Linked DNA regions of Homo sapiens: region 1 is linked to region 2. A link means that fine-mapping ties the variant in region 2 to the expression of a gene that starts in the linked region. Tissue or cell type: whole blood. Region 2 holds a variant in brackets; the other region holds the start of a gene. All regions are shown on one strand. Distances are from middle to middle.

What was found. PIP is the estimated chance that this variant, and not a neighbour inherited with it, causes the effect.
Region 1: it holds the start of UBA2, and the variant in region 2 is fine-mapped to the expression of UBA2 in whole blood (INTERVAL, PIP 0.98).

Annotation. Positions count from the first base shown.
Region 1 is chr19:34,426,972-34,429,557 of GRCh38, reverse strand. UBA2 (ubiquitin like modifier activating enzyme 2) reads right to left here and starts at 1,177. Exons shown (of 17, transcript NM_005499.3): 1 at 988-1,177. The coding sequence starts at 1,125. LOC124904695 (a long non-coding RNA gene) reads left to right here and starts at 1,194. Exons shown (of 2, transcript XR_007067232.1): 1 at 1,194-1,436. RefSeq lists silencers at 680-839, 910-1,019, 1,050-1,289.
Region 2 is chr19:33,774,459-33,777,044 of GRCh38, reverse strand. No RefSeq gene overlaps it. Among named protein-coding and RNA genes, the nearest start is that of KCTD15, 21 kb to the left of the region's middle. The variant C/G (reference allele first, on the strand shown) is at 1,513.

The DNA.
Region 1 (2,586 bases), 650 kb before region 2:
TTTCATTTACTATTAACCTGAGAACTGTGAAAGGAAACTTTTACACATGGTTAAAAAAGTATCATGTTTTAAGTTTTATCTAATTTTTGCTTAAATATATAATACATAAAGGAAAGAAACAATGACTCAGTCGGCCACCCGTACTTTTTTGTTCATTCCATGTTTCCACTAGCCCTTAAGACACTTTAAACTCACACCGAAGGGCCAGTAACATCTCCAATCTCTAAAAAGTTTGCATTAGTAGAAATAACGATTCAAAATAGCACTGGCTTGTCAACGTACACCAATGCAAAAGGCACAGTCCTAACGTCTTTAATGAAACAAGCGAGTGTACCGTCTACTGTGAGAGCAATGACAGTCACGCAGCCTGCGGGAGCCCTGCCACTCGCTCCGTGACCCAGGGTAAGTTACTCAACCCCATTGCGTCTCCCTTTCCTCATCTGTTAAAAATAAAGCAGGGTGGAAATAGCGTTTGCACTCCTCGGGTGGTATGAAGATGGTGCGCGTTCCGTGTGTAAACCCGCTCGTGACCAGCGCTCGGGACGCGTTGGTCGCTATCATTGCCATCCTCCGCCCCGCGTCGTTACTTCGGAGTTACGACAGGGACCTCAAAATTAAAGTCACAACATCCGCGAGGGACTCAATCCTCTCCCGCATCTCCTAACAGCCGGGAATTTGTTTTGAAGGGAGGATAAGAGGCGGCTTCACGCCCACGAAGCGCCACACATTGGCGCTGCCGGGGAGGCGGGGGCCCGCGGCCTCCTCGGCGTCCGGAGCCGGCCCAGCGAGCGGAGGCCCGCCCCGTGCCCAAAGAACAGTCTCCTCCCGCGGGGGGGGCACAACCCGAGCCTCTCAGCCTGCCCCCGCTCCGCAACTCCGGTCCCGGGCTCCGGGCCCTGAGCCTCAGAGCCCCTGGAGCCCCGGAACCCCCGAATCCCAGCCCCCGCACCACAGCCCGCCATTCACGCGCGCGCGCCCGGCCCTCACCAGGTCGATGTGGGAGAAACCGGTGAGCACGAGATTCTTGAGGAGCTCGCAGCCGATGCCGCCCGCCCCCACCACCAGCACCCGGCCCCCGGCCACCGCCTCAGCCAGCTCCCGGGGCAGCCCCCGCGACAGTGCCATGGCGGGACAACCACGAGCCGCGGCGGAGGCGGAGGCGGGAGAACCGAGCCGCGGCCGGAAGCGGGTGGGGGAAGGGCGGCCTGGTTTCCGCTCCTGCGCACTACAGCCTCCGGCAGACACAGGCAGGGCACATCGCGCCGGGGTGTGCTGCAGCCCGCGGGGACCGGCAGGCTCTTGCAAAGGGCTGGCGACCTCCAGCTGAGACCGGCGGTGTTATTCCCACACCAGCATAGGCCCGCCATCAGACCTAAAAAGTCTAAGGGTCGCCTTCTAGCCTGGGGTTTCAACTCCCAGCCAAGACTTCCTTACAGGTTAGAAAACTGATGTCCCTATACGTAAAGAGCTCTTACAAATTAACAAGTGTCACCCCCAAAAAAATATAGGCAAAGGATGTGAACAGGAAACTCACAAAAAATTGGACAATATGATCAATAAGCGTATTAAAATGTAAACCATAAAAGAATCGCTTGAACCCTGGAGGTGGAGGTTGCAGTGAACCAAGATCGCACCACTTCACTCCAGGCTGGGTAACAGAGCAAGACTCCGTCTCAAAAAAGAAAAAAATGTAAACCATGCAAAATGGTAAGATTTTCACCTGCCGGGCGCGGTGGCTTACGCCTGTAATCCCAGCACTTTGGGAGGCCGAGGCGGGTGGATCACGAGGTCAGGAGTTCTGAAACCAGCCTGACTAACATGGTGAAACCCCCATCTCTACTAAAAATACAAAAATTAGCCGGGCGTGGTGGCGTGCGCCTGTAATCCCAGCTACTCGGGAGGCTGAGGCAGGAGAATCGTTTGAACCCAGGAGGCAGAGGTTGCAGTGAGCCGAGATCGCGCCACTGCACTCCAGCCTGGGCAACAGACTCCGTCTCAAAAAAACAAACAAACAAACAAACAAAAAAAAACACCGAAACAGCTGGGGGTGGTGGCACAAGCCTGTAGCCCCAGCTACTCAGGAGGCTGAGGCAGGAGAATTGCTTGAACCCAGGAGGCGGAGGTTGCACCACTGCACTCCAGCCTGAGCAATACAGCGAGACTCTGTCTCAAAAAAAAAAAAAAGTTTTTCACCTACTAAACTGGTAGAAAGAAAAAATAAGTAACACTTATCAAGGGATTGGGAAACAAGCACTCCAACACACTCCAGGTAAAGATTCCAAAGCAAAGCTTCTCTAGAGGGCGTGGTGGCTTGCACCTGTAGTCCCAGCTACTCAGGAGGCTGAGGCAGGAGGATCACTTAAGCCTGAGAGGTCGAGGCTGCAGTGAGCTATGCCCTTACCACTGCACTCCAGCCTGAGAGACAGAGCAAGACCCTGTCTCGAAAAAAAAGAAAAAAAAACCCTAAAATTGTGCACAACTTTTGACTCATTCATTCCAATTCTAGGAAACTGTCCTGTAGCAGTTATCATTGATTTAAAATATATATAAATTTAGTTACAGGGATGGCCATCATGGGAATAAAAA
Region 2 (2,586 bases):
GGGGGAGATGATGGGGGACCCCCTGTCCACTGCCTGCCTGACTTTGTCCTGGGCCCCTTGGACAGGCCCTGTATGGGCCACCAAACCCTGTCGAGACAGCAGGGAGGAGGGGGAGCTGGGGGGAGCCAGAACTGCCCGAGTTTCCCACCTGACCATCTGTGTGGACCTTGAATCCTATCTCCCCAGGATACTCAAGGCCTTTGGGGCTCCCAAGCCCCAGGAGGGACCCTAGGCTTTGGGACGTCTGTTCTCGTCACCACTCAGAGAGTGGGGCTCCCATCCAGGAGGTCTCAGCCACTCAAGGGCAGAGGCCTGGCAGGGACTTCCCTGGGGCCGCCCGGAGGGGCCCACAGGGGGACCAAGCTGGGGAGGGCCCTGGGGCTTGGGCTGTTCTTCTCCCAACTCAATGGGCCTCCTTTGCCCCTGGGAGCTGCCAGTGGCCCTTTCTAGGGTCTCTGATCAGTTGGCCCCTTCCAGGTGACATCCACAAAATGGCCAGCGAATGGGCAGGGAGAGACGAGGAGCAGGTGCACGAGATGGTCCTGGAGACGGGCAGGACTCAGACTGCACACAGCCCACACCCGGCATGGACGCGGGCTCACACACAATGCACACCCCTCACTCCAGGAACACACACACACAGACACACACGCTCCCACTGACCCCATAGCACAGGCTAGAAACACACACACACACACACGCTCACACCCACCCCACAGCACAGGCCAGATACCTCCCTCCCCCCACACACACCCACATACTCATTACCCATTTAGCCCACAGCACAGGCCAGACACCCACACAGACACACACCCACGCAGACACACAGACCCACATTACCTGTATGCTCACTCCCATCCACATGATACAGGCCAAACATACACTCACACTGTACAGGCCAGACACACACAGAAACACACATACAGACATACACTTACACCCACCCACCCCACAGCACAGGCCAGACATACACACAGAGACACACACAGACACAAACACACACATGCTCACACCCACCCCACAGCACAGGCCAGAGACACACACACACGTTCACACCCACCCACCCTACAGCACAGGGCAGAAACACACACACACACACAGACATAGACACAGACACACACACACACGCTCATACCCACCCACCCCACATCACAGGCCAGACACACACACCCACATGCTCACACCCGTTTATCCCACAGCACAGGCCAGACATCCACACAAACACACCCACCCACATGATCCATATGCTCACACCCACCCACAGTACAGGCCAAACACACACACTCACAAACACACATGTGGAGAGTATAGGCCAGACACACACATAGACATATACGCGCTCACATCCACCCACCCCACAGCACAGGCCAGACACCCACACAGACACCCAGACACACACACAGACACATGCACACGTGCACACACACATACTTCCCTACCACTGCACTGAGTCGGCTCTTCCTGAGCCCTGTGAGGTTTGGGGCTGGGGTTGGGGGTTGGAGCTGGGTTGGT[C/G]TCCAGGCTGGGCCTCTGGCCTTCAGTTGGAGGTCACTCTCAGGGCTGTCAAGTGGTGATCATGGTCACTGCCTGCACCTGTCTTCTGTCATCACCACCTGCAACAAAAGCCCCCCACTGATGGATGCGTTGTGTGTCCACGTCTGTCCAGCTTGAGCCGGCGTTTCTCTGAGAGATGATACAAGTGCATGTGCCTTCTCCCCCGACACACACATGCAGACGCACACACACGCTCACCCAGGGGAGGGGCTGTGTCATCCTCACTGTCTCCAAGCTGCTCCCAGATGCTGTGTCAGCGGAGAGTTCAGGTGTTCCCTGCTGAGCAGATGCCATAGGGGCACTGCCTCTGGCTTCACCAAATGCACCCATGACCAGGGACACTTTCCTGCACATGAACGTGGTCTCACGTTTGAGCACCGGGACCCAGGGCACCTCTTTTTAGGTTGTCCTCAGCCAGGCACTTCCCTGTCTCCTCTCACATGGACCCTGGTCCTGGCCAAGGTGCAGGGCAGCTACTCTGGCTTTCTGGGCCCCTCAGCATCTGCTGTCTCAGCTTCCACGGGTCCCAAGAGTTCCCCAGGCCCTGACCACAGCCTCTTCCCTGCCCCTCTGGGTCACTTCTGTTGGATGGTCCAAGCCGCTTCCAGCTGGAACCCGAGGGAGGTCTCCCTGCTTCTCAGATCTCCTGGATGGATGTTACCCCAAAGGGGCAGGAGGAAGGCTCAGTGCCTTGTTCCCCTTTGCAATGTTCCAGGGTCCAAGATGGAGGCAGAAAAGGAGATGGAGCAGCTCAGGCTGGTGTGAGCCTGGGGAGATTCCAGAAGCACCTCCAACTAGTAATACAGGAGCGCCTCCAACTGAGGATCCAGCAGCTCCTCCACCTGGGGATCAGCAATTCCTCCACTTGGGGATCCAGCATTTCCTCCATCTGGGGATCCAGCAGTTCCTCTACCTGGAGATCCAGCAGTTCCTCTATCTGGGGATCCAGCAGTTCCTCCACCTGGGGATCCGGCAGTTTCTCCACCTGGGAATCAGCAGGGCCTCCACCTGGGGGTCCACCCAGGGATCCAGTGG